Linked DNA regions of Homo sapiens. The protein of the gene in region 2 purifies or fractionates together with the protein of the main gene of each other region. This does not show direct contact. Each region holds a gene or a part of one and is shown on either strand. Other genes may lie near its edges.

The links. The genes of interacting proteins can lie anywhere in the genome.
Region 1: the proteins of NUP88 (region 2) and RBM42 fractionate together in Homo sapiens (co-fractionation; 2 studies listed by BioGRID). This does not show direct contact.

Annotation. Positions count from the first base shown.
Region 1 is NC_000019.10:35,632,036-35,635,635, reverse strand, and holds part of RBM42 (RNA-binding protein 42), read right to left. Parts: intron 2,701-3,600; coding exon 2,635-2,700; intron 2,560-2,634; coding exon 2,384-2,559; intron 1,950-2,383; coding exon 1,617-1,949; intron 1,381-1,616; coding exon 1,263-1,380; intron 1-1,262. UniProt on the Homo sapiens protein: Binds (via the RRM domain) to the 3'-untranslated region (UTR) of CDKN1A mRNA.
Region 2 is NC_000017.11:5,418,096-5,422,041, forward strand, and holds the start of NUP88 (nuclear pore complex protein Nup88), read right to left. Parts: upstream 1,568-3,946; 5' UTR 1,556-1,567; coding exon 1,259-1,555; intron 1-1,258. Other genes in the region: RPAIN (RPA-interacting protein), read left to right, coding at 2,116-2,196, 3,201-3,371. UniProt on the Homo sapiens protein: Component of nuclear pore complex.

The DNA.
Region 1 (3,600 bases), on a different chromosome or scaffold from region 2:
GGCAGGAGAATTACTTGACCCTGGCAGGTGGAGGTTGCAGTGAGCTGCCGAGATTGCGCCACTGCACTCCAGCCTGGGCGATGGAGCAAGACTCCGTTTCAAAAAAAAAAAAGAAAAAAAAAAAGATATAATTGAAGGACATAAAACTGCATGCATGCTGGTTCAGGGCAAAAACATTAATAGTTCTAACAGAGTTTTGGGACACCTAGGGAAATACGAATATAAACTGAAAAGAAGATACCGAATTAGTTAATGTTCTTAGACTTGATAATAGTATTATGATATGCAAAAAGTATCTCTTTTCTTTTTTTTTTTTTTTTTGAGATGGAGTCTTGTTCTGTTGCCAGGCTAGAGTGCAGTGGCCTGATCTCGGCTCACTGCAACCTCTGCCTCCTGGGTTCAGGCGATACTCCTGTCTCAGCCAACCGAGTAGCTGGGATTATAGGTGCCTCCCACCAAGCCTGGCTAATTTTTTTGTATTTTTAGAGACACGGGATTTCACCATGTTGGCCAGGCTGGTCTTGAACTCCTGACCTCAAGTGATCCACCTGCCTCCGCCTCCCAAAGTGCTGGGATTACAGGTGTGAGCCACCGTGCCTGGCCAAAATATCTCTTTTCTTAGGAGATAAATACTGAGATATTTAGAAGTGATTAATTCACTTATAACTTGCTTCAAATGACTGAGCTAAAAACAAAGAAACCAGATACATACACAAAGAGGAAAAAAGTGAACACAGCAAAATGTTAATTGCAGAATCTAGGTGGTGGGTAGACGGGTGTTTACTGTGCCATCTGTGTTTAAAATTTTTCCCGGCCAGGTACAGTGGCTCATGCCTGTAATCCCAGCACTTTGGGAGGCTGAGGCAGGAGAATCACTTGAACCTGGGGGGCGGAGGCTGCAGTGAGCCAAGATTGCGCCACTGCACTGCAGCCTGGGCGACAGAGTGGTACTCTGTCTCATAAAAAAAAAAAAAAAAAATTTTTATCCTAAGAGTTGGGAAAAAAAAAGAATGCTCTCTGAAGCCAGGCACCTCATGAGTAAAACAGGCTACAAAGCCCCATGTCCCCGTCACCTCCACCAAGCTCCGGCCCATGGCTAGGTGAAGAACCAGCCCCTGAGCCATAGCCTCCCCTCCCCAAGGTGGGCTAACAACAGCGCCCACCCTACTGAGAGGGTTCACCCTCCCAGTCTGCAGCCCAAGGACAGCAGCCTGGTCTGACCTTGGCCGAGCCACGCCTGACCTCGAGCTTCAGCAGCTTACCTGCATCCCACTCCAGCAGGCTGGGGTCCTCCCAGCTGCTCCCTGCCGCTGTGCGAATGCACCGTTTCAATTTCTCTGGCTTCCCCTTCTTCTTGTCTTCACCCAGGGGCTCTGGGACCTGCAGAGGAAAGGGGAGAGGTGCAAAGGGGTTGGTATTGGGGTCTCCCACTGTCCTTTGGTCCCCGGCCCTCCTGCCACCACAGTAAGGGCTGGATGTGCTTCTGGATGTGGGGCACATGTGTCCGCCTCCCTCCCCCAGGTCCTCCTGCTGTCCGGTCTGTCTGTGTGGAAGTTCCTGGGCTCCTGTCTGCCCCCCGTCCCTTCTGTCCCTTCACCGCTAGGCTCCCTGCTTACCTCAAGAGCCATGAGGCCTGGGGGTGGCTCTGGCCGAGGGGGCCGGGGCCGAGGACGCAGGGACAGGAGTTCAGGAATGCGCAGCGGGGGCAGGAGGCCGCGGACGACCTCCAACGGGAGGGGCAGGGGCTCAGGCTCGGGCAATGGCATGGCCAGGGCCAGCGGCAGGCTGGGCCCAATGACTGCAGGGCCAGCTGGGGCACCTCCTGCCCCCACGGCCACAGCCGCGCTAGCCTCCTCCAGCCCAGCCGCCGCCGCCACCACTGCCTCTTCCTTCTCTTTCAGGCCCAACCCCAGGCCTAGGCCCAGCTCTCGGGGTGCTGCTGGCTCTTCCTGTGGGTAAGAGGAGAGCATGAGGGGGGCCGGCTCACAGGCTCAGACTTTACTGTCATCTCCATTCCATCCAACAAAGAAAGGGCCTGGGGGCCAGAGAGCAGCCAAGAGACACCCAAGCAGAGAGTCTCCAGCCAGACAAACACAGAGAAGGAGAAACACAGGCAGAGAGAGACAGCCACAGACAAGAACATCAGTAACAATCAAAAGAGAAATATTCCAATAGCATGTTTCTCTCTGTACTCCCTTCACAAAAGGAGAGAACAGATTTTGCCACAGAAAGATGCAGAAAGAGACAGAGACAAAGGCAGAGTGAGAAGGTAGAGAAACAGAAAGTCAGGAGAGAGGCCAACTCAGACATAGCCCATTGGGCCAGGATGGATGGTCTCCCCGTCCACCGCACATCTGACCGTTAGTTCCCTGTTCACACTCACCAGAGGGGGCCTCAGTGCAGCCATGGAGCCCAGCGGGGGCCCTGGAGCCCGAGCCATTGGTGGCAGCATCATGGGTGGTCCAGGGGGCCCAGGCAGAGGGGGGCCCACGAGGGCCTGGTGAGGGGGCCGTAGGGCCATAGGGCGGGGGCCGGCTGCTGCAGAGGAGAGAGCGGAATCTGTCAGGGTGTTAGTGGGGAGTTCCAGGGCCTGGGGGGAGTTATGTGGCAGGGATGATGACCCTGGCCCCTCACCTGCTCTCTGTAGCACGTGGGGGACGAAGGCTGGACGCAGGATAGGGGCCCTCTGGGGGGCCACAGCTGTGGGAGAGAGAGATGGGGGTGTGTGTCATGGGGGACAGGGGCACTTGGGACAAGGTGTGTGTGTGCATGCGTGTGTGTGTGTGCACTCTCAGCATCAAGAAATCCTGGAGAAGAGTCTGGGGAGCCCTCCTGGAGATGTGGGGGCCTCTCCCCTGGTTCATTCCATGAAAATTTACCACTGAGAAGCTCCTCTGGCTCAGCCCTGTGGCAGGCAATGCTGGGGACACACCAACAGACCCAGGGTTCTCAGGGAGCTCCTGGTCCAGAGGAGGAGGGAATGGAGACATCACTAGAGAAGGAGAGCCAGTGGGGACCAGCGCTGGAAGCAGGGAAGCCCAGGCAGTGGGATCAGTGCTAAGAGAGGGGAGCCCTCTGACCCAGCCAGGCCCAGGGAAGGCTTCCTGGAGAAAGGGACCTGTGAGCTGAGACCCAAGGGGCAATGAAGTGTTAGGCAAGGGGTGAGTGGGAATATTATTGGCAGGAAGAATATTTATAAGCAAAACCTTTCCCTTTTCAGTTTAGTGTAACTGTAATAGAAGTAGTGGGGCTTAGAGAGTGTCATGAGAAGGGCTGAGCAGCCAGCAGGCACCCCAGTAGAGCTTTTTTGTTCTTAAAGCACAGCATTCTTGGCTGAGCCATGGGTGTCCTCCTGAGGGCACTGGGGAGCCACAGCAGGGTTGGAAGCTGGGCAGGGGAAGTAGGTCAGATTTGCATTTTGATCAAAACCATACTAAAAAGTAAGAGACATTACAACTTCTCAGAGATCATCAGATTAATAAGTATAACAGGATTTAGGTAACATAAGTAGCACGTTTGGTTTAACCGAGATTATACCAGAATTTTACATCCAAGTAAGAACACGCATCCTTTTCATACATATAAGGAAGTAATGTCCTA
Region 2 (3,946 bases):
ATGGCGCCATTGCACTCCAGCCTGGGCAACAAGAGCGAAACTCCATCTCAAAAAAAAAAAAAAGACACAAAATAATTATAAATAATTAAGTTATGATTATGTCAAATGCTACACAGCAGTATAGAATGTTATTAGAATACTGCGTGCTGCACATTTGGTAATTATTATTATTTTTTGAGACACAGTCTTGCTCTGTTGCCCAGGCTGTAGTGCAGGGGCGTGATCTCAGCTCACTGCAACCTCCTCCTCCCAGGTTCAAGCGATTCTCCTGCCTCAGGCACCTGAGTAGCTGGGATTACAAGGGCGCGCCACTACACCTGGCTAATTTTTGTATTTTTAGTAGAGACGGGGTTTCACCATGTTGGCCAGGCTGGTCTCGAATTCCTGACTTCAGGTGATCCACCTGCCTCTGCCTCCCAGTGTTGGGACTGCAGGCGTGAGCCACCGCGCCCGGCCTTCATAATTCTTTTTAACTGAAATTGGGTAAATAAGTAGACTGTAGACTCCTGCCCTATTTTCAAAACTGCAGAAGCATTGCTAGCGTCTTATTAAAATTAAATCACTTCTCGGTAACAAGAATTGGACCGGGCACACAACAGATGTCATACCTTAGAATGAGTACCAAGCTCTTTTTCATCTTTAAGAGAATCTGTGTATTACAAATAAACATTTCCATAAACCAATATTTGACCACGGCAAGTGTGTAATACTTTCTGGATCACACCCATTTTCACATGCTGTCGGCTAATCAAAAACAAAAATCCCCATTTTGGGTATGGCTTTATTTTCTAAAGCGGGCGTTACGGGGGTAAGAATTAACAGAGACTTCCTCCTCCATGTCAAGCATGAAGCGTGGTGCTTTGAAACCTGCAACCTGACTTGCTGTGCACAACGCAAGAGAAAGTTACGATCTAACCTATTATAAGCGTCACATCAGGAAACAGGTTTCTCTCGACGAAACTAAAAATAGCAACTCCGCCCACTCGTTCTCAACCCCTTTAGCCCGCTTTGTTTTTCTCCAGAGCACTCATCCGTCACTAGTATTTTTATTGAATATTCAATGACCCTTTCCTTCCTCCCAGGCCTCCAGGCCGTAAGCATCGAGAGAGCCTGAGTCCCCGCGACCGCGTATGGCAGCGTCGGAGTCAATCCGCTGGAACGCCTGCCACAAGATGAAAAACAGCCAAGAGGAGCAAGGAACAAAAAAGACTGGTTCCGATCCCGGTGAGGGTCACTTCCAAGATCGGCCTGGCATTACCTGGTACTGGGACAGGGCGGGCTCTTCGCCGCCGCCGCTGGGGCCCCGAAGGCGAACGACTAAGAAGGAGCTGTCTTCTCCGTCCCACAGGAAAAGCTCTCCGCCGAGGCCAAAGACCACGTTTCTCGTCAGCAACTGCGGCGGCGGCGACGAAGGCAACGACGAAGAAGCTGGTTTCTCAGCTTCGGTTGGACTCTGGTTTTTCAGTCCCTCCCGGAGCCGCAAGAACACGACGTGGTTAGGAAGCCAGGTCTGCCACAGCTCGCCGTCGCCCACCGGTCCCTCGGCGGCCGCCATCTTGGCCCAACTGCTCCCCTCACTCCAGTTGCTCAGCCCGCCGCTGAGCACAGCCAATCCGCGGCCGTCCACTCACTGTTTCGGCCAATCACCGAGCAGACGGCCCGGAAGCTCGAGAGGCTCGTGCCAGGTCGGGGGGCGAAGGCGAGGCCAGCCCACCAAGCAGGGGCGTCACCAAGGGAAAGCCAATCACCATTATTTCTGAAGCCCAAGGGGGCGGGACGAGAAGTCAACATAATGGTGGTGCTGCTGGAAATCTAGCACCTGGGGAGAGCCTGAGACTTGTGTATCTAATTGCCTATTGGACACCTCCATCTGGGTAAACCCAGGCATCCAGAACTTTCCCTCAAGACTTACCTCCCTCAGTGCAGGTCGGGCTGGCCTCACGCATTTCGCTTGGATGCCTAAATCTGTCTCCACGTGGGGCCGGTCGATAAAACAACACTTCCCAGAATACGCTGCGATCCATTCGCGGTCTGCACCCGGAAAGTACACCTCCCAGGGGTCTGTGCGCGCCTCCAGGGAACGGGTCTTGTGGCTTTGTCTCCCGCGAAGAGGAGATGGCGGAGTCGTTGAGGTCTCCGCGCCGCTCCCTGTACAAACTGGTGGGCTCGCCGCCTTGGAAAGAGGCTTTCCGGCAGGTGGGTATGGGGTTTGTGCAGTGGTCTACCCTAGATCGTCCCGGTGACCGCCGTCTTCCCTGCCTTCGCCTTAGCCCTGCTCCGTGGAGCAGGTGCCGCAGCGCGCCTGGTCTGGTCAAACCCAGGCCTGCTGACTGTAGAGTGTGGGATTAGCCCGGGTCGGTCAAGTCCTAGAAAGCCTTGTTTTTGGATTCGATTTTGTTTTGAATTTAAATTGTGGTCAGGACATCACCGTTTGCACCTCTGCAATAACACTACCTACTGTTGCTGCGGAGGTGGCCACCGAGAGAGGCACTTTGTCTACGTTCGTCTTGTGAGATAGAGATGATTTCTATTCTAGAGAGTAGTAAAATGAGGCTTAGAAGAGGGCTCCACCTCAGTTCTGGCCTCTTCTGAACACAGTGTGGTTATTAGTAAGTAATGTCCAAGAAAGTAACCCGACGCAAGAAAGATAGCAGATACAGCAGAGTTTCTCAGCCTTGACAATGGACATTTTGAGGGAGATATTTATATGTTGTGGAGGGTTGTTTAAGCCACGTCTCGGGCCTCCACCCACTAGATGCTAATAGTCCTATAACTAGAATTGTGACAACCAGAAATGTCTCCAAGCATTGCCAAATGTTCCTTGGGGGACAAAACCTCCCTGAGTTCAGAAACGCTGCTGTGCAGGAAGGCCGTTACCCAGCCATATCTAGAGTAGCAAGAATTTGGAAGGAATATAAATGTTCTGTAATAGGACATTGGATGCTGAGATATTATGCACACAACCATTAAGGAAACTGGCAAGCTAGAATAAAAAATATGGTTCTTTGTAAATACGTGTACAAAGCATTGTAATTTTATGTATCTCTACAGAGGAATATGCAAAAGTAACACTAGTTAGTATTATCATTGAAATTTTGTGTCTATAAACTTTCTTTAATGTTTTCTCAACTAATGTAAGAGTGTTTTTTAAAAATAGAAATGCTTTTTTTTTCCCCCCCAATCTTGCTCTTTTTTCCCAGAGATGCCTGGAGAGAATGAGAAACAGCCGGGACAGGCTCCTAAACAGGTACCGCCAGGCTGGAAGCAGTGGGCCAGGGAATTCTCAGAACAGCTTTCTAGTTCAAGAGGTGATGGAAGAAGAGTGGAATGCTTTGCAGTCAGTGGAGAATTGTCCAGAAGACTTGGCTCAGGTCAGGCTGGGCTATGTGTTTTCAGGGAGGGGGACTGCACCACCAAGAACGGCTCGTGTCCTCTTTTATTTGTTTACTTGAGTCCTCTAAACCCACCATTCCCCTAACCCCATTTAGAATTCAACAGCCTTTAACCCAGGCTTTTCTACACTTAATGTTAGACTTGTCTAGATGAAATGGTCTGAAATACCAGACCGTAGACCTGCTCATCACTGCAACATCATCATTTATGAAACTAAAAAGAAAGAAATTTCATTTCTTGCCTCCACCCTTGGAAATTATGATTCAGTAGGCATAGGCTAGGAATCTCTTTCTCTCCCTCTCTCTCGCTCTTTTTTTTTTTCTGTCTTGCTCTGTCGCCCAGGCTGGAGTGCAGTGGCAAGATCTCGGCTCACTGCAACCTCCACCTCCTGGGTTCAAACGATTCTCCTGTCTCAGCCTCCCAAGTAGCTGGGATTACAGATGTGTGCCACCATGCCCGGCTAATTTTGTTTCTGTTTTAGCAGGGATGGGGTTTCACCATGTTGGCCAGGCTGGTCTTGAACGCCTGACCTCTAGTGATCTGCCCACGTCAG